Linked DNA regions of Homo sapiens. The protein of the gene in region 2 purifies or fractionates together with the protein of the main gene of each other region. This does not show direct contact. Each region holds a gene or a part of one and is shown on either strand. Other genes may lie near its edges.

The links. Proteins that work in one complex are often made in the same cells at the same time.
Region 1: the proteins of RFTN1 (region 2) and ATG2A purify together in Homo sapiens (affinity purification with mass spectrometry; 2 studies listed by BioGRID and IntAct, with this or other methods). This does not show direct contact.
Region 3: the proteins of RFTN1 (region 2) and RABGAP1L purify together in Homo sapiens (affinity purification with mass spectrometry; 3 studies listed by BioGRID and IntAct, with this or other methods). This does not show direct contact.

What each region holds. Positions count from the first base shown.
Region 1 is NC_000011.10:64,894,046-64,900,242, forward strand, and holds the end of ATG2A (autophagy-related protein 2 homolog A), read right to left. Parts: intron 4,798-6,197; coding exon 4,591-4,797; intron 4,393-4,590; exon of another isoform or gene 4,318-4,392; coding exon 4,216-4,317; intron 4,126-4,215; coding exon 4,041-4,125; intron 3,930-4,040; coding exon 3,794-3,929; intron 3,699-3,793; coding exon 3,626-3,698; intron 3,450-3,625; coding exon 3,367-3,449; intron 2,825-3,366; coding exon 2,703-2,824; intron 2,572-2,702; coding exon 2,417-2,571; intron 1,398-2,416; coding exon 1,245-1,397; intron 1,165-1,244; coding exon 928-1,164; 3' UTR 501-927; downstream 1-500. UniProt on the Homo sapiens protein: Lipid transfer protein involved in autophagosome assembly. Tethers the edge of the isolation membrane (IM) to the endoplasmic reticulum (ER) and mediates direct lipid transfer from ER to IM for IM expansion.
Region 2 is NC_000003.12:16,510,695-16,518,574, reverse strand, and holds the start of RFTN1 (raftlin), read left to right. Parts: upstream 1-4,875; 5' UTR 4,876-5,133; exon of another isoform or gene 5,134-5,504; intron 5,505-5,658; exon of another isoform or gene 5,659-5,791; intron 5,792-7,880. UniProt on the Homo sapiens protein: Involved in protein trafficking via association with clathrin and AP2 complex.
Region 3 is NC_000001.11:174,274,487-174,281,519, reverse strand, and holds part of RABGAP1L (rab GTPase-activating protein 1-like), read right to left. Parts: intron 6,421-7,033; exon of another isoform or gene 6,331-6,420; intron 5,688-6,330; coding exon 5,585-5,687; intron 2,908-5,584; coding exon 2,741-2,907; intron 1-2,740. UniProt on the Homo sapiens protein: GTP-hydrolysis activating protein (GAP) for small GTPase RAB22A, converting active RAB22A-GTP to the inactive form RAB22A-GDP. Plays a role in endocytosis and intracellular protein transport.

The sequences.
Region 1 (6,197 bases), on a different chromosome or scaffold from region 2:
GATTCCGGCTGCAGCGCTGCTCCAGCACCCCTCCCCCCTCCAAGTGCTGGAGCTGGGACCCCAGATCAGAGTGGAAACCAAGGGGCCAAGGCCTGGGCCACCCCAAAAGCCCCCACTAGGGATGGTGAGAGCAACATCTAGAATGCCTCAGGCTCAGCCTTCCCCGAGTGGCCTCAAGTGACAACCAGGCAGGGTCAGCTGGGCTCCAAGGACCATCCCTCCCTCCCCTGGCAGCCCCACGTAGCTCCTGCCACATCAGGAGTGGGGCTGGAGTGGCAGCCTCCTGGGAGGGGCAAGGCAGAGCCCAGAGCCAGGGGAAGGCGTGCAGGGCTGGGTGCCTCTGGGTCCCCCTGTGCCCTGATCTGCTGGGCAAGGCCAGGAGGCATGGCGACCCCTGGTGGTGACATGGGAGGTGCTGGGTGCAGAGGTGGGATCTGGGGCGGGGCCAAGGTCAAGGCTGAGGCCAGGGTTCACAGGGACAGAGGATCTGAGAGGGGGGCTGGCGGTGGGCAGTTTATTCCACTTCATGCAGACACTGACCCACGCACTCACGGAGCTTAAAAATAATACATCGAACCACACGGATATCATCCCCTCCTCCCCCCAGACACAGAAAGACACTTGGCTGAGTGGGATGGGGTCCGAGGGTCCAAAAGCCTCCGTCCTGGGAGAAGGCAGCAGTGTGGGCCCAGGTCGGGGGAGGGGCAGTGTCCTTTCTCCCCGGAGGAAAAGTGCAGAGCCAGGGCTAAGGCCCCAAGGCAGGGAGGCCCCCCTCTCACAGCAGATTGGCAACGGGCAGGCTGGGAAGGCGTCCTTCACAGTGGCCATCCCCTGAAGGGCCAGGCCGGGCCGGGCCCGTGGGCTGCAGCTCTTGGGAGGCTCAGGAGCATGGTGGGCAGCACCCTCTGGGTGCCGGGCACCCCAGGCTCAGTCTTGGGCACTGTCCGAGCGCCACTTGAGGGCGTGGTCCTTGTGGGCGTCGGGGACAATCTGGTTGCGCATGCCCCCGAGCAGGCTGGACGTGGCCTCCGTGGCCAGGATGAGCGGCTTCACCACAGTCGGGGGCAGCTGGCGGATCACGCCCCCCACGGCGCCCGTCAGCCCCTTCTGCTCATGGCCCCGCGATGCCACGTCACAGATGGTCTGAGCTGTATCCAAGATGCCCTGTGGAAGCCAGAGGTCAGGGCGGGGTCTGTGTGAGGAGATGGGCATGGGGGACTGGGGCAGGGCGGGGGCCTGGTCACCTCTCGCACTGTGTCGTAGGCCTTGGCCACACCCTCCCGCAGGTCGGCAGGCTGCTGGCCCCTGCGCAGCCTCCGCGCAGAGCGCTTATCCTGCAGGGAGCGGGAGACGGGGGCTGCCGGGGACAGGATGTCATACACGGTCTCAGCTGTGGCCTGGGGGACATGGGAGCACTGGATGAGGACAGCTGGCTGGGGCACACGTCAGCCCCAGGCCCCCAGGACAGTCTGAGACCCCACCAGCCCTCAGCCTCCCTGCCTGTCACTGTGCTGGCCTAGGGGGTCCTGCTCAGCCTCACTCCCCACTTCCTCCCACTCTTCCTCCCCTTCCTAGGCACCTGCCACTCTGCTGAGGGAACCTAGGAACGTGGGACTCCTCAGGGGACTTTCCTAAAGTCTTCTCAACCCAAACCTCTCTTCCTGCTGACCACCACATTCAGCAGGTTCCACATGGCTGCCGCAGCTGCACGCCTGAGACTGACCGCTCCTTGCCTGGCCCCCCAGACGCCCCTGCCAGATGGTCAGAGGCCCATCCTTCCTTCTGTCTGCCAGATCCTCTGCCCAGCATCTCACCTGGCATCACTCTTTCCCACCTGACTGAACACTCCCGGGGGCTCCCTGGTGCCCATGCATCCCTCCCACCTCCCCTGGAGCCCTGCCCTCTGTCCTGTTGGGGTCTGAGCTTGCAGGTTCCAGAATGCACCATGCACCTGCACTCACCCCTTAGCCGCCTAGGACCATCGATCCCCTACAGAATTCATCTGACAACTGCCCACGAGACTGGCTCCCCAGCTTCCCTGGGGTCCTTCTGGCCTAGCGAAGCGTATGGCCTGAATGAACCAGGGCAGCCTCTGCGCCTCAGATTCTTAGTCTGCAAACACAGCCGTCCTCCACCCCCCTTTACAAGACATGCCATGAGCAGGAGACACAGTGGGCTCTGAAGGCCTGGGGGGCACTCCCGCTCCTGCATGGGAGCCCCTGTGGGCCTCGGGAGACCTGGCTTGGAGGTCCCAGGCAAGTCACTTAGCCTCTCCGTGGCTGTTTCTCTATAAAGTAGGGCTGTCATACCCAGACTGCCCACTCTGAGGAGCTTTGAGGACAGAACCAGGGAGCTGTGGTGCAGAGGGCTCCAGCTGCTCTGTCCTGCACAGCCCAGATACAGGGCACCCACTCACCTGGATAGCCTGTACCAACCGGTTGCTGAGTTCCAGGGCGGCAGAGGCTGTGGATGAGCCAAAGGAGGCAGCCCCTCGCTGCAGCCCCCGCATGAGGCGGCCATCCTTCCTGTACTGCTCAATGGGCAGCCACAGCAGGTCCCGGAACCCTTGGACTAGGGGGAAGGAGCGCTCAGAGACACCCGAGGCTGCCCTGCCCCCACCTCCTCCTCTTATTCCCAATGGCAGCTTCTAGGTTGCCCAAGGGTAAAAGCAGTTTCGAGGGCTTCCAAACCTAGACACTCACAGAGCTGGACAACCGAGTGCATGGGGCCCACGCCTCCCAGCAGGCCGGGCAGCTGGTTCTTGCGGATGTCCTGCAGCCACTCGTTGAGGGCATAGCCCAGCACCTTGTCCACACCCAGGAGCCTGGCAGGGCAGGGAGGTGAGGAGGCAGAAGGTGAGGCAGAGCCACACATGGAGGGATTGTGGGGTCAGGAGGACTCAGTACCCCTGTGGCAAGTACTGTGGGCACTCTACCCTCCCTGTGGTCCCACCCAGTCATGTGCAGAGGGACTGTGTCCTTTTTTTTTTTTTTTAGATGGAGTCTTGCTCCGTTGCCCAGGCTGGAGTGAAGTGGTGCGATCTTGGCTCACTGCAACCGCCTCCCAGGTTCAAGCAGTTCTCCTGCCTCAGCCTCCTGAGTAGCTGGGATTACATGTGTATGCCACCACGCCTGGCTAATTTTTGTATTTTTAGTAGAGACGGGGGGGTTTCACCATGTTGGTCAGGCTGGTCTCGAATGCCTGAATGTGTGAGCCATCATGCCCAGCCAACTGCGTCCTTTTTACAGAGGAGAAACTGAGGCCCTGAGAAGGGTGATGACTTGGCCAAGGCCACACAACCAGTCAGGACCAGAACAGAAGGAAGATCAGGGACCCTGGAGAGAGGCTGGGGTGCTGGGGACTCACCCGTGCCTGCAACAGAGCCGCTTTAGCTTCAGCTCGGAGCAGTTGAGTTGGGCCAGGCCGATGAGGAGGCCAGCAAAAGTGCCCTGGGAGAGGGAGGGGGTCCAGGTTTACCCAATGGGACTCAGGGAGCTAGCTAGCCCATGGGAGCCACTGGAGAGCGCCCTGGCTGCTAACAGTGCCTGGATGCAAGACCTGGCCCCCAGAGGGACTCAGCCACAGCTGACCCCACATGGCCACCCCATCCGACCGCCCCACTTACCACCTGGTCCATCGTGACGTGCTTGCCATGGTAATCCAGCCAGATGGGGACCTCAGACGTGAAGCGGAACTCTCTGGGTAGGGGAGCAGGAAGAGGGGGTTCTTTGCTCACTGGCCTGGCCCCCAGCAATCTGGCCCAGGGCCCCCCACCCGCAGTCCAGCAGCCTACCTGAAGTAGATGGGCTGCTGGTCAGGAGGGGAGGGGCTGTGTCCACCTCCTGGGGCCTCCTGCGAACCAGTGGTCTCTACGCCTTCGGCCTGCCCTTCCAGGGGGCTGCTGGGCTGGGCTCGAGTCTCGGGGCGAGCTAGGGGAGGGGAGGTCACAGACTGGGGATGGGGCCAGGAATGACTGGGAACCTGTGCTGTCCTGGGAGGCAGAAGGCCCAGACGCTCCCCTCCCTGGCCCAGCCTCTCACCCTCAGCGGAGGTCTCCCCTGGGACCACGGGGTTGATGCCGGCCACCAGACTAGTGAAGAAGTCCTTGAGGAAGAAGAGGGCATCCTGCAAGGGAGAGGTCCAGATGTGGATCAGACTCAGAGGCCTGGAGACAGTGGGGTCACCCTAGGCTCTGCCCTCACGTAGACCACTCACCTGGTCCACATTGAGCCGCAGGGGCATCAGCGAGACGCGGAGACAGCACTCAGGCCCACCCAGGTTGGTAGTGGGGGCCACATGCAGCGCTTTGATGGTGAGCTGGGAGCAGAGGGTGAGTTCTGGACACCTGCTGGGCCTCTGGGGCAGCAGCTCACCCAGCTGTTCCCTGACAGCTCACCCAGCCACCCTGCCTCTGAACACGCTGTTCCCTTCGCTAACACAGCCCCTAGCTCTGCCCTTCTCCCAGGCTCACAAACAACCTGGGTGTTTGTGTGGGAATGCGTGTATGTGTGTGAATCCATGCATGCGTGAAGATGTATCCCCAACGGTCTGGTGCCCTGCCCCAGGGTGGATGGTGCAGGTCGCTCATACCATGTTAGAGTGGGCACGTCGCGGCATCCGCTCACTCGTGTGTAGGTACAGGAACTTGTTGATCTGGGAGGAGGCGAGCCGGTCTCGGACCTCCAGCTCCTGCACGATGAACACCTGACGGGACAGCGGTCGCTCCTCCAGCTCCTGGCTGGGGGCCGCAGGGCCTGTGGCTGGCTCCGCTGGGTACACCTCGTGCTGGAAGCTTACCTGTGGGGTGGACAGAGGCCTGGCCAGGTAAGCAGGGCCCCAAGAGGGAGGGAAGGGCTGGCCCCAGACCCCTTCTCTATTCTTTTTTTGAGACAGAGTCTCACTCTGTCGCCCAGGTTGGAGTGCAGTGGCGTGATCTCGGCTCACTGCAACCTCTGCCTCTCGGGTTCAAGCGATTCTCCTGCCTCAGCTTCCCCAGTAGCTGGGATTGCAGGCATGTGCCACCACACCCAGCTAATTTTAGTAGAGACAGGGTTTCACAACGTTGGCCAGGCTGGTCTCGAACTCCTGGCCTCAAGTGATCTGCCTGCCTCGTCCTCCCAAAGTGCTGGGACTACAGGCATGAGCCACCATGCCCGGCCCCTACCCCTTCTCTATTCTATGCCCAGCAGGGACCTGCCTCTCCCTCCAGACCTGACCCTGCTCTTGCTTCCCATGCCAGCTGCACTGGTCTCTGCCCCTCAAGGAGTCCAGGCCTGTTTTGCCTTCAGGACTTTGCTCTCGTAGCCCCTCTCCGTGGAGAGCCTTCCTTCCCCCTCTTCCTGCACACCCGCTGGCTGGCCATCAGGTCTCAGAGAGGCCCCTGGCCCCCTGCTCTGACACTCATCTCCCGCAGGTTCTTGCAGCACAGCCCACCAACCCGAGCAGCCTGAGGCCCCTCTGCCCTTTGCCTCTAGCGGCTCCTTGGGAAGCCCAGCACTGGCCTGGCTCACTCTGAGCAAGTGGGACCCCCCTGCCCCAGGCAATTTCCCAGGCCCAAACCTTGAACCCTCTGTACCACTCTCTGTATCTCACACACCCCATCCGCAGCTGAACCTGTGGCCAGCCCCCATCTAGGCTCTCCTGAACCTGCTCACTAGCCCTCCCTGATTGCTGCAGAGCCCCACCCCACAGAGGCCTCTCCTCAAAAGCCCTGAGGGGTTCGTCTCTTGTAAGACTCAAAAGAAACATTCTGGGTCGCTGGTTATGCACAGGCTCTGCTGCTCCTGGAAATGTCAGGATGCTTCCAGCTTCCAGCATTTTTTTTTTTTTTTGAAACAGAGTCTTACTCTGTTGCCCAGGCTGGAATGCAATAGGGCGATCTCAACTCACTGCAACCTCTGCCTCTTGGGCTCAAACAACTCTCCTGCCTCAGCCTCCTGAGTAGCTGGGACTATAGGCACACACCACTGCAAATGGTTAATTTTTTTTTTTTTTTTTTTTGGTAGAAATGGGGTTTCGCCATGTTGCCCAGGCTGGTCTCAAACTCCTGAGCTCAGGTGATCTGCTCTCTTCGGCCTTCCAAAGTGCTGGGATTACAGGCATAAGCCACCATGCCTGGCCCCAATTTGCGGCTTTCACGCTGTCCTCTCTGCCTGAAAACTCTTCCTGGCTCACATCCCCACTTGTTCAGGTCTTTG
Region 2 (7,880 bases):
GGGGGATACTGAACTGGTCCCTTCGGGTTCTTCTACGTACAGGTGTGATGGGAAGTAGGTGGGAGCATCTTTTCATACCCTTGGATCTTCTCAGGGTCCAGGGCCCTGCTGTCCATCTCAAGAGCTTACCAGCACTCTAGGCTATTAAATGAGGGTTGAACTCATGGAATAGGAGTTAGCCTCTCTGGATGATCCACGGGTTGTGCTCTGGCTGCTGTTGATGGGAGTTCATTGTCCAGCGTCAATGGGAAGGATGAACAGCCTGTTTCCTTCCTCTACTGAAGGTCTATAATGCTCCTCCTGCACAAATCCCAAGAGCTGAACAGCTGTCCACAGGGTTCTCAGATACTATGGATGGATGATTTTCACTTGAGTGGAGGTGGTGGGTTTCTGAATTCTGACTCTGGTCAGTCACTGTGTCCTACCAGTTGCTGCCATCAACATATTCCCTGTGCCTTTCCTTCCTTGCTTTTCTCCAGTTGTGAAGCTTTTATTGATTTTTTGAAGGTATGTGTGTACAGGATGGTGGGTGGGTAGCAAAAGGAAAGGAGATATGCTGCGGGACACTGGTTCTGCCTGATTTCCTATTTTTCCATGTATTTTCGTTTTATGCCTGGACATTGACTTCCAAAACTCAAAAGCCAAGAATTTGACTTTTTTTCTGGTGGAGTTATGATAACTCTCCTTTTGACAACACTTCCGGCTGTCCAAATTGATGGGAAGAGAGTTGTACAGGAACAAGAAATACAAGTTGTACAGTGTAGCAAGAAATACAGTGGGGGCGGGGGAATGATGGTGGAAGGGAAATCAGATTAATTAATATATCAAAATGTTATCCTGCCATTCATTTAATGATGATTTATTTTTATGATCTCCTTATTTTGACATCTGTAGAATGTATAGGCTCCTTATACACACACCCCCCCCCCCCCCCACACACACACACACATTTCCCCCTTATCTCTGGTAATAAAGTTCTCAAATGCAAGTCAACAAATGTGTCCCATGAATGGAATAACCAGTGAAGGGGTGTGGATGTGGATGGCTTTTGGTAAATTCAGACAATTCCTCAGGCTGAGTGAGGGAAACAAAGCTACAAATAGCAATGTGTTGCACGCAGTATTCCTGAAATTCAGTCTCCAGTGGCTCTTTGCTCCAGAGAACAAATTCCATCTCAGCCACAGGAGGGCCCCTGCTCCCCTGAACTGCTTGACTCAGACTGGGAATTCAGAGGTAAAATGAGTGGATTCAGGAGCAGAATAACAATAAATGTGGGTGGTGGTTTTTTTTTTTTTTTTTTTTTTTTTTTGTATGGGAGTGAATGGAACATTTGGCTATCATCCAACATTTCCTCAAATTGGTGATGTCTGTGGGTGGCATTTTCAAAGTATTGTTTTGACTATACTTTGGACAAAAGTCCCTAGCCTTGGCTGATCAATGCATATGCAAAAAATGCCCTAACCAGCTCCCTGCCCCCACCCTAATTCACATCTCCACTGTACTGGGGAGTCAAAAGCATGTTTTGGCACAAGTGTACTCTGCTTTAACGTGGCCAAGGGTGCCATGGTCTTCCTAGGGGCGTGCCTGTGCAGGCTGTGCCTGTCACCATGAACAAAGGGCAGGGGCCTCCTCCAAAACCACTGGCTTGGGGCACAGAGCTCAGGCCCCTGCCACCGTGGCTCCTTACAGGCACGATTGTCACCGGATGCAGGGCCAGCTTCCTATAACTGTTTAGTACAGAGCAGCTGGCCAAACTGTGAGCTCACTGTGGCTGCAAACCCATTAAAATATTAACTGTGATGATAAAGATGAATAATTATTGCACCTCCAGGGCATAGATAAGTCTAGTTCTGTCTCCCACCAGCCCTGAAACTCTGCTGTTCAGCTGGCGAGTGTAAGGTCTGGGTTTCGTGGTCCTGTACATAAACAATTAGGACAATAGCTCTTCAGGTTCCAAAGCTTTTGTTTGATCCATTTCTGCTATGAACTGTGATTACTCTCTGCAGAGAGGGGGAATTGAATTATTTTGGGCTAAGTTAGGAGCAGGGTGGACCTAAGTGAAGTGAAATTGTGGGGATGGGGTCTGGTGGGAAGAAGGTGAGCAGAATAGGTTAGCTGGGATTCTCCTTCCCTCCAAGCCTCAGCATAGTTAGGATGCAGCGAAATTGCTCCGGCTGCTGGTACCCATGGCCTTAATCATCTCCAGAGTGGGGTGGTGCTGCTGAGGCCAAGAAAGAATTATTCCAGCGGGGGGTTCCTTTAACTGAGCTTTTACAAGAATCGTGCAGTCTGGCCACAGCAGCTTCTTACACTTGCCTAGGCTGGCTTAACTCCTCTTCTTTCCACAGGGGGTGTGAGGAGATCCAGCTTCCCCATTAGCTTGGGACCTGCGTCTTATTGACTGTGAACACTCGGGACCCCAGTTCTGGGGCCATCTGTGACCTGTCATGCAGTAATAGCTTGGTTTTTCCCGTGTTCAGCTCCTCCCCGAGTACTTAGTGTTAAATCACAGGGGGAGGAAGTGTGAGCAGAGAAAAAACAGCACTATTACATGACCCCCGATGAGACCGCTGTGATAGAATTAAAAGCTGCCGCCCTAGGACATTCTAACAGATGACATTGTGAGGTTGCCAAGGTAACCCACTAGGATACAGTCCCAGCATCTTTGGGGTTGGGGCTGGGTAGGCAAGGTCAGTTAGAAGTGAGACCCAGCTGCCCAGGGTCTCTCCCATGGCTGGCCAGTCCATAGCAGTCAAGTGGAAAATCCAGGCAGCTCTCTACAGAACACAAGTGAATCCAACATTTGGCTCCTCATTAAATATTCCAGGTGAAAGAGAATTGGAACACCCTGGATAATTGCTGAATGCAGGTTAAGAAGAGCCTTGAAAGATCTGCATGCTATTGGCTCATCCACTCATTCCACACATATTTACTGAACACCTACTATGTGCCAGTAGGAAGCATCAGAATATCAAGAAGATCAGGAGTTCTAGAAAACCCTCAAAAATGCAGATCCAAGCAGGGAAAAAAGTCATTTAAGACATTTGCCCATGATTATTAGCACTCGGGAAAATATTGAGTGGAAGAAAATGGAAGCAATCAGAATAGCATATTAACCTCAAGCACTGGTGTCTTAAAAAAAAAAAGCACAAAAAACACAACGGTGTGCAAAAGTTTTATAGAGTGAAAATGATTTGCTTAAAAGAAATCAAGCACACTGCAACTAGGTTATGCTGCATTCCCCCACCCCCACCCTCCTTTTTCCTTTATCTTCTTTTAAATGCCTACCGGTTAACACCTATCAATTTTATTTTCTTTCTGTGGCCTAGTGACCAGCAAAGGATCAGAAAGATTTTGGATGGACCCTGACTTGCAGCAATTCAAGGCCTCGGGCAGATAGATAGCATGAAGACCCCTCCCTTTGGCTTCATAAATGGGTGTTCACAACCTCTGGTGATGCCCCTGAGCAAATGTCCCTGCGCACTACTGTCTGAACCTGGACTTACGTGGTCACCTGGTCTTATTTTCTTTCATGTGGCAAGCTCAAGTGTAGGGGGGAAATGGGGGACACTGGGGATAGTGGTGGTGAGTGTGACACCAGGAAAAGGTGGGGTGGAAAGGGAAAGGAGAAAAACAAATAAAAACAAAACAGTGGTGAGGGAGGGGGAGCAAAACAGAACTAGAAAGGCTATGGAAAGAGAAAATAAGGAAGAAAATCTCTGAGAAGCTGTGGTAACAGGAAGAGTCCCTGAAAACAAAATAGTGCTTCCTTACTTGCTGGAGGAGTGTTATTAGTGCCAGAAGGACCTCATCGAAACACTGCTGGGCCCCTAAACCAGCCCTCCACCCTGTGTGCTCCAGTGCTTAACTTTGCCCACACAGGGTCTTCTTTGCCCAATTAGAAAATGGAGATAATTAATTAAATTATCTCACCCTTCTTGTTCTAGCCCCCTTAAAATAATGATAATAGCTAAGTTATAGAGTGGTTGCTAAACACTTTACATATAATAACCCACGAAGAAGTGCCATGTGACAAATAGGCGCAGAGCAGTTAAGTCACTTACCCAAAGTCACACAGCCAGTAAGTACTAAAGCCAGGAATCCAACCCTGATTATTTGACTTTAAAGTTCCCCCTCTTAACCCCTACACTGTAATTCTGCTTGGTTTAGTTTTACGAAGAAAATATTTTCTAATGGCTCCTTGCCTCACATCTTCACTTTACTAATGCAGCCTGGTTTACTAGTGCTTCACTCTTTATATAATTTTCTCCCTGGGTGCCTCAAGTTGCCACGCAAGGTGATTCTCCAGATCTTCTCAAACCTCTGGACATCTTAAGTAGGTAGACCAAGGGATGGCAACGGAGACAGTGGCATTACCCTTCCCTGAAGCACTAACTCGCAAGAGAGAATTTCAGCAGCACCTGAGATGTTTAGGGATGCTCCCACCTGTGGAATGGGGTCGAGAAATGGTCCTCTCTCAAGTCGGCCCCAACCCCACCCCCAGCCATCAGCACCTTGATGGCAGTCGCCCTTTCAGCATCCTGGCTCAAATCTTGAAGGATCCTTGTCTCCCAGGCGCTCTTCCTGACAGCACACAACCTTGATTAGGAGGGGCTGGGAGGGAGGATCGATGAGCCCCTGACCCCTGGGTTCTGAGGCTGCCAGGGTCGCTTGCAGCTCGGCCGCGTGGAGGTGACCGGGCGGAACTCCGAGGGGGCGCGGGGAGAGCTGGGCGGGCCCACCGCTCCAGCGGCTGCTGTCAGGGGCCGCGAGGCTTTCCCTGAAGATGCAGCGTAGCATATTTTGCACATGAGTTCAGAGGAAGAGGAAGTGTAGCCGGCGGACGCGCGGCGGCGGCGGCGGGGGCGCGTCGGGGCTGGAGCCGGAGCGCGCCGGGCGCTGGGCGCAGCGAGCGAGAGCGCGGCGGCCGCGGGCTCCGGCGAGGGACAGACGCACCGATCGCCGGAGGGACAGACACACGACCACGCGGCGCCACCGCCCACGCCTCCACCCACCGGCGCCCAAGTCCTCCCCGCGCCGCCTCCTCTGTATGGCACAAACTTTCCTCCCGGGACGGAACACGCTGCCTCAGGGAGCCCGCGACCGCGCCTTCTCCTCCGCCGGTCCCATACGGTAGGCGGCGGGGGGGGCGCGACAGGGCTTGGGGTGTCGACCGGCACAGGCCCCTCCGTTTGGCCCCATGGACCGGGTCTCTGGCGGGTAGTGGGAACCGCGCGTGGCGCCTCCCTGCAGGTTGCTCTTTGCCGGGGCTCCGGAGCTGCCAGAGCAGCACCCCCTGGCCCGCGTCGGATGGGGACCTGGGCTGATCCTTGGGACGCCTGGATCTTGGGCCAACTTTTTTTTGCGGGGAACGGGTGTAGGGGAGTCATTCCTGGAGCGATGTAGGGAGAGGCACTTCGGAGCAGCCTGTTGGGGGTCGTAGGCTCTGCAGGCTCAGAAGCGCCTAGGAAGGACGCAGAGGTGGGGGAGCTTGGAGGCTACAGGTGGGTCCAGGACACACTGCCGCTGGGGTCCTCGGAAAAGAACAGGAGGGAGCTGGTCGCGGAGTCCAGGTTTCCGGGGTGCGCGCGGCCTGGGTGGGGCAGGGTGGAGGCGGTGCCTGACTGCCCCTCTGCGTGTGCCCTGGGAGGTGGGTTTGCTCTGGGGACAGAGGTGCTGGACGTGTAGGAGCAGACATGCCGCGCGCTCCGAGGAAGCGCCGGAACCACCAGAAGCACAGGGACGCGGGTGCCGAGAGTCCCCAGCACTGAAAACGGGGATCTCCTCTTCTGTAAGGGATTTTCTTCCCTTGTCTTAACCCACTTCTCTAGACTCAAGGGACGCCAGGATGGATATGGGTCTGGGCGAGGAGGAGGTGGTTGTGTATTTCGGGAAGCCCCGTTGTCAGGCACGCGCACCCCAGTCCTAGGCCAGGGCTGGTGCCCTTCACCTCCGGTGTCGCTGCCTTTGGCAGCAAGAACCGCGTGGAGGCCAAGGTTGTAGAACCAGGCACGCTCCCTGCTGTCTGTCTGTGACTCTGTGCTTGCCCTCAGCTGCCCTGTGTGGTTATGGGTGATCCCTAGGGACGCTGGGTGGTGTCAGTGAGTTTCTTCGGGGGCTTAAAACAAACAAACAAGAAGTACTTTTTTAAAAAAAAAGTCTGGCTCAATCTCTGTCAGTGGTCACCCCAGTTTCCAGCAACTCATGTGCTGGAACCCTTGTAGTCGGTACAGCTGTTTCAGGAGCTGGGCGCTCAACTAGACTAGGCATCTTCCAACCCCTGCCATCGTGTGTCATCTCAGGATAAGTTAAGGCCTTGCCAGGAAGGAAGCCGGGTGTAATGTGAGCGACCTCTGGGCCTGTGGGTAGGGCCTCTCTGCTGCCGGGATTCCTAATTTGTATCTCTGAACAGCTGAATCCCAACGAAGTTCAAGTGACCCCAGATGTCACCAAACCCCAGAGAGGGGTTACGAAGCAAGCTGTTTGGGACTCTTTGGTGCGTGTGTGCTAACCTCAGTGAAATCACTCTAACCTCAGACTGAGCTCTGCATCCTCTTTTGCCTTCAGTGGGGTTTCTGGCCCGCCTGAGTGATTCAAAGCCCCAGAGCTGGCACGTCATCCTCTGGCTGCATTTGTATATCAAGTCACTGGGTTGGTTTTTCTTTGTTTGCTTTTTGGCTGTATGGACATGGGGCAAATGGAAGTGGAGTGTTGTGCAGTTAGCTAGTAGATTTGGTACAGGAATTGAAAGATAATAAATTGGGAATACAAGTCAGTGAGTTCTTTTTCTCCCTCTTGAGCAGGAATTTTTGGCTTACATTCAAATAATTGCTTTGTCTGTAGGGAAACAAGCAGAAAATCTTTGGCATGAGTGATGTGAGTTCCTGTAAAGCTACTTATGTTCTTCCAGTCTTCTCTTTTCAGCAGAATTGAAACTATGTGGTCCCATGGCTTGGTGGGGCATGGTGCTTTGCCAAATTTCTAACTTGGTGGACTAAGGAGAGGACACTGTGACTCTATCCCCATCCCATTTTTTAAGATATAGAAAAGTTGCAAGAACAGTGACCCCCTAAATATACACACCTAGAGTCTAATTCACATTTTGCCATCTTTGCTTAACTACACACCTCCCCCAACCATCCAGCCATCCCTGTGTCCATCCATAAGTCCAGCTGATGGTTTTATGCACTTTAAAGTAAATTACAGATGTTGGTACAGGTCATTCCTAAACATTTTAGTACACATTTTATTATTTTGACTTCAATATGTGCTTATGGTTTCCTTAAGATAAAATTTATATACATATAGTGAAATGTGCAAAGATGGAAAGTACCATTTGCATAATGTTTTGACAGATGCATGCACCTGTGTAACCCTAGTCCTTATCAAGACAGAGAATATTACTGTCACCCCAGCAGGTGCCTTCATCCTCATTCTCAGTCATTCTCTGCCCTCACCCTCTCAGTGGCAACCACTGCCCTGTATCTCATCATAGGTGAGTTTGGCTTGTTCTTGAACTTCATGTAAATGGAATTCTGCAATATTGTGTAAAGCTCACCATATTTTTGAGATTCATCCATGTCGTATCCATGATTTGGTCTTTTTTTATTGCTGACTTATGTTCCGGAGTATGTCTTACTCCACAGTTTGTTTGTATATTCTGTTAATGGATACATGGATTATTTTAGTTTCTTTCTTCTAGTTTCTTTCTTTCTTTCTTTGGTTATTGTGAACAAAGCTGCCGTGAACATTTGTGTACAAGTCTCTGTAGGGACATGTGTTCTCATTTCTCATGGGTAAACACCTAGTAGTAAATTGCTGGGTCAAAAAGGAGATATATGGAAACCTGAAAAGAAACTGCCAGACCTTTTCCCAACATG
Region 3 (7,033 bases), on a different chromosome or scaffold from region 2:
CGGGTGGGACTTGGAGAACTTTTCTGTCCAGCTAAAGGAGCGTAAACGCACCAATCAGCACTCTGTCTAGCTAAAGGTTTGTAAACACACCAATCAGCACTCTGTAAAAACGCACCAGTCAGTGCTCTGTGTCTAGCTAATGGTTTGTAAACACACCAAACAGCACTCTGTAAAAACAGGCCAATCAGCACTCTGTAAAATGGACCAATCAGCGCTCTGTAAAATGGACCAATCAGTGCTCTGTAAAATGGACCAATCAGCAGGGCGCAGGCTGGGCCAAATAAGGGAATAAAAGCTGGCCACCTAAGCCAGCAGCAGCAACCCGCTCGGGTCCTCTTCCACTCTGTGGAAGCTTTGTTCTTTTGCTCTTCACAGTAAATCTTGCTGTTGCTCACTCTTTGGGTCCGCACTACCTTTATGAGCTGTAACACTCACCGCGAAGGTCTGCAGCTTCACTCCTGAAGCCAGCAAGATCACGAACCCACCGGGAGGATCAAACAACTCCAGACACGCCACCTTTAAGAGCTGTAACACTCACTGCAAAGGTCTGCGGCTTCACTCTTGAAGTCAGTGAGACCATTAACCCACCAGAAGGAAGAAACTCCAGACACATCTGTACATCTGAAGGAACAAACTCTGGACACACCATCTTTAAGAACTGTAACACTCACCGCAAGGGTCCGCGGCTTCATTCTTGAAGTCAGCAAGACCAAGAACCCACTGAAAGGAACCAATTCCGGACACAAAAGGACTTTCTCTAGTTTACTTTCCCAGCCTCTAGTTTACTTTCCCAGACTCTAGTTTCCATCCTCTTGTTAAGTGCTCTCCTTGCTCCCAGTAAATGGACAATGAATGAAATGAAATGCCATTTGGCCCTGAGTGGACAGTAAACAGGAACAAAGCAGACTTTCATACATCCCCACTGCCCACACATAAAGTTCTGCTATATTTGAGAGAAGAAAGTTGCCAAGAAAAAATAGTTTGGGAACAGGGCATCTCATGTACTTTGGTGTTGCCCCCAGGAGTCTGGTCTAATCCTGTCTGGGTACAGGACAAGTTCTGGTTTCATTCAATAAGTTCAACACTCTCAGAATGAAAGAAAAAGTTCTAGGTGTCTAAATCACTTAGAACTGAAATCAATGCATTCTCTCTTTATTTCTTTAAAGTAGTAATGGCCTGGACCCAGATTTTCAAAGGTTACTTTGAATTGCATTAGGTAATCACCTAATTCATTCTTTCTACCAATGTTGTATAGTGTAGACCAACATCTCCAGATTACCATCAACCACCCCAAACCAACCCACCTTTTGGAGGTGTAGAAAGAAGCTAGTCTGGCCTTACAGCAGCATATTCTGGCTTAAGGTAAGGAGTTATAGTCTCAGGTCTTGCAATAATTACTTACATGAATTTTAACAATTACTTTAATGTCTCTCTCTCTCTCTCTCTCTCTCTCTCTCTCTCTCTCTCTCTCCAGGCAGACAGACAGTCAAAAGTACTAGAACTGGGAAAAACCTAACATTTTCTCAGATCTCTAGGAGGTATAATTTACATTATAATTTATCATCATTAGAAGAATGACAACTTTCTATACAGCTCCAGCTCCTTTATTCACGATTATGCAACTATGAATAATTCTTTGGCTCAAAATGAAGAATTATTGGATAGTCATAACTAAGCTATTTTTTTAAAAAAGAAGGATGGGGAGGAAGGAAGACAGGAAAAAAGTCTCATAATAAAATATTAAAAGATGCTCAGGAGACTGAAGTTTGAATATTGCTCACATAACCTTCATTAGAATATGCTATAAAAGCAGTTCACACAGTAATAAAAACTGAGTCAAATAACAGCCATAATAATTTTATGAAAGATTTTTTTAAAACCACAATAATTTCCAAGTACATAGTATATAAAGCCGAGATGCGCCATGGCAGTTTTTTTAATATGAAAATGGGTAAGAGGCTTCTATATTTGTTTCCTGTACTGGTGCCTGCTTTTATCACACAGCAGTCCACATATTATAGTATATGAAGCAGCAAGCATTTTAAAACTTGGGAGAATGAAAGTACTAACAAAAACAGCATATAAAAGATGTTCATTATTCTAATAGAGCATTTTTATCCTGATTTTTTAAAAACTCACACAATTAGCATTCAAGTTATTTTTCATTATTATCTGCTTCCTTTGCTATAATACAAAAGTTACATATTTTATCTACTAATACTGCCTAATTTGAGGATATCATAGAAACCATAATTTTGTTCATTTAATATTAAAATAATTTTATAACCTCACTGATGAGTCAAACAAGATGTTCATATAATATTGTCTATCTAATATTACAGGCAGAAATAACTATAGAAATTAGGTATTTCTTAGAAACATTTTCATTAAAATTTTATAAGCATATGATATTTCTGTGCACTGCCTTTTTGGTTTTAAGTAATTGTTTATAAAAGGCAGAAACGTTGTTTTATATGCAGTCAATATTTCTGTTAAGAAGGTTCATACATTACAGGTTTCTAGGGAAAAAGTATGTAATTATTAAACTTGCTGGGTTTTTTTAGCTAATATTACCTAGATGTGACTTTTTCAAACACTCTATTGGTTGACTTCAAATATCATTTGATTTCTTTGAGGAATTGTATTGTTTTGCAACTTCAGGAATTATCTTGGCATTAAAAAAGAAGTGTGGAAAGAAAAATGTTTGTTACTATATATGAAGAGAACAAAAAGGTCCTACCTGTTTCAATCTCATGAAGAAAGTCTCTGTGAAAGTCTTTCTGCTGAAATACCAAAATCGCTCATTTGCAGGGTACACACGGACTACTGTCTCCAGGAGAAAGCGAACAGGCTCCACCACCTCTGTGACTACCATATCCACTGCCACAGTCATGTATACTTGCTTATCTGTAGTAGAAATTTTCTGGGTTTTATGCGAGCTTTATTATTCCTTGTCTACTTTAAACAAAGTTTCCTCACTTATGAAAGAATTAAAGTTCTTTACAATTGTAATACCTTCTATGTTTATTTTTAACTGTTCTATTCACATTTTGATTAAATAAGTATGCAAGTACTCCAAGCATGTTTCTTAGGAACTAATAATCCTAAGTGTTTGTTGTTTTGAGACAGAGTCTCACCCAGGCTGGAGTACAATGGAGCGATCTTGGCTCACTGCAACCTCCGCCTCCAGGGCTCAAGCAATTCTCCTGCCTCAGCCTCCCAAGTAGCTGGGATTACAGGTGCCCGCCACAACACCCAGCTGATTTTTAAAATATTTTTACTACAGACGGGGTTTCACCATGTTGGCCAGGCTGGTCTCAAACTCCTGACCTCTGGTGATCCACCCCCATCAGCCTCCCAAAGTGCTGGGATTACAAGCGTGAGCCACCACACCTGGCCTCATTGAGGTTTTTGAATCTATGGCCTGGTCATTCCATACCATTTTGTAATTTCCTCATTCCTTTTTAAATATTTTTTAAAATTTATTTTCTTTACAATTTTTAGTTCTCTGTTAAAGGAAAGTCCAAATAACCAAGGCCACCACTAGAAGAAACCCTCAATAGTGTTTTTAAATATTATATAACATTCAGATTCATCAACTACTTCTCAAATTCAATAACAATTTTATTACATTCTTACTAAATACAGTCTTACTAAATACACCTGCCAATTCAAGAGAAACTAAAATTTGTTAGACATTATACTTGACCTGGAGGACCTTAGAGAAAGGAGTAAGGAGTAATAACACAAGACAGAATATAACATTCAACTGGATCTTAGTGCAGTGGAAAGATCCAAGACTTTTCATCTCTCAGGTTCTAAACTTCTTCCATAAAAATCAAACTTTATTTGATCACACATTCTCTGAGTAATGTGTAATTTCAAGGACATAATTTAGAAATTTTAAAAATCAGGGCAACATTTTTGTGTGGCATATGAGATAATGTTAAATTTAAAATGTATACTTTGAATCAGAATATTATAATATACTATTATATAGTTTAATAGAATAAATTATAAATAAATTTTCTTTTGTGGACCAAATATATATTTTATTGCAAAATAAAACTAAACTAGGTGTTACATTAAAAACATAAAAACTATTTTTATAACTTGATATGCAAAATTCTTATATTTTGTTCTTCAAAACTGTCAACTGGCTTATTTTTATCATTTTTGTGGCTTCCTTCTGAACAAGTATAAGAAAGAAGTTACAGGTATTTGCAAGCCTGTCTCCAGAAATAACAAATTGTGGGTCTAAAAATTATTTACTGCTAATAAATGAAAAGTTAAATTTTATATAATCTTTTTTTCTGTTTAGCCTTTATTTTTAGACAGCTTAATATGTGATCAATGTATGTGATTTATATAAATGGTGAATACTCTCTTTAAGGAAATGAAAGAATAATTATCATTTTAATGCCCTTCATTAACATATTATATTTTCATATCAGTATTCACGAATGCTTCCTGTCAGTAACCAAAAGTCTACTGTGGGTATAAACTAAATAATATAAAAATTAATGATAAAACAAACTGATCCATTATATTCTAAATATGAATTAATGGTTTAATGACAGTAAAGCACTTAGGGTAGGCATATAACTCGGCAGGTAAAACTTTAAATTTAGTTTAAAAGTAGATAATGAAGGGGCAAAAAACAGGCAATTAACAGCTATCTGGATGAAGTAGGAATGAAAAAACACAATGGAACAACGAAAAATGTGACTATTCAACATTTATACATTCTGTTCAATACTAGACATGATAAATAATATGAAAAGTTAAAAAACTAAGAAAAAACTATTTGCTACAACTGAAATATTTAATATATATTACAAGCATCCCGAAGGCCAAAAGACTGGAGCCAATAATTAATAAATGAAAAACTATAAGTAAACTATAATGCAAAAATAGTTAATAATTTAAAAATATTCAAAATTCTAAAATATTTCCTTTTCATCATTTTCTTTAATATTTCTCCATCACTAGTCTCCACAAATGAAATAACTCTATAGTGGTATATGAAAAACAAAGCCCAAATGCTTTCTCTATAATCTAATAAAATTAATTCAGGCCAGGTGCAGTGGCTCACATCTGTAATCCCAGTGCTTTGGAAGGCAAGAAGATCAGTTGAGGTCAAAGGTTCAAGACAAGCCTGGGCAACAAAGCATGACCCCATCGCTACAAAAATAAAATTTAAAAATTAGCCATGCATGGCAGCACACACCTGTAGTTCTATTTAATAGCTACTCAGGAGGCTGAGGTGGGAGGATTGCTTGAGCATGACAGTTTGAGGTTACAGTGAGCTATAATGCCCCTATACTCTACCCTGGGCAACAGAGTGAGACCCTGTCTCTTAAAATAATAACAATAATAATAATTCACATATCTTTTGGGGAGGATTTTTTTAAATAGTGGAGATTTCCCCCATAGAAGCATAAAGAATAAAAATGAACCTCAAATTCTCAATGAAAGAATAAGTCCACTTTGAGTTCCAAATTTTTTTTAAAACATGACAAGCAACATTGTTCATAATATAAAATGTAAAGCAAACAATAAGGGATCTTTTAAGAAAAGTCACCTTTTGGGGTTTCCTCGTTAAGTGCCAGAAATACTGGTGCATTGGGGTTCCACATGCCAGTGATGACATAAGCTCTCCCATCATAGCTCTTTCCCATGGATTCCTATAAAAATTCAAACAGTAATTACTGATAAAAGACATCAAAAAAATCACTACTTTAAATTACATCTTACTTTAAGCAATACAAATTATTAAAATTTAGATTAACAGTCAAGCAGGAGCTTTATATTCACTGTAAATTCTTTTCATCCTACAAAAGCATTTATTTAAATATTAAATTCTTCTACAGCTTTCTTCAAGCACAGTTTCTATTTAAAGACATGTACCCTTGGATAAAAGGAGGCATATACTTACATGCTGAATCAAAAAAACATAATATTGTTACAAAGTTGTATTTAACTTGATCTTGACACCAATTGTCCAAATCTCATATACACATAAGAATGTATATGGTTTCTATTAAAACAATAATATAGAATTAGCTGAAGACAGTTAAACTGAACTAGTAGCTAATCACAGTAGGGAAAGTTAATATTTTTCTTCTAATATTCTAATTTTTAATGAATTCTTAAAATATTAATTTAGTTTGTAGCAATTAATACCTTTAAAATTAACACTTGTCTATTTTCTATATGTCAGATATTTATATACTTTCTTACAATCATAAATTAGTATTAGGAGACTAATTTTTGGTTTGTAAGCAGCATCCAAGTGTATTAACTCTCTCCCTCTACTGTTACACTTACTCCCTCTTTCTTCCCTTCTCTCCTTCCTCCTCTTCTCCATTCTTTAAGACTTTACCAAGCCAGCTCTTGACTCTCACTAAAAAAGCCAGCAACTCCTATGGCGAAAGCTAGGCTACTTATAGCTTGTGTATATGTGTGTGGAGAGAGGAGGGGTAGAGTTTGTCCCATGAAAGAACAACACACAGCATACAAGTATTTCCATATGCAAATGAACAGTATCTACAATATTTCAGTTTTTGTAGCGATTTCCTCACATTATGAATAGAGACTGTTAAAAGGGTCAGACTAAAACAAAGAGAAAAACTTTTCTTTTTTCATTATTACCCATTCACAGATGTTTCTCTGAACCCCCTATAAAATTGTGTCAGTCATTTGGTAATTACTATGTATATTTTTCTAGTGTATTAGTAATACTTCACTAATCAGATTGTGTAGCTTGAGCGCAGGGACCATGCATTCCAGAGATGAAATACACTCAAGGTCACTTGTAAACGAAACCCTCTCAGCAGCCCCAACACACTCATATGATAATGGTCTCTTTCTCTCCTCTACACACACACACACACACACACACACACACACAGAGTCACCTGTTGCTTAATGATAGGGTTATGTTCTAAGTTATGTGTCATTAAGTGATTTCTTTATGCAAATAGAATACACCGTACTTATAAAAACCTAGATGGTATAGGGGCTACACAAC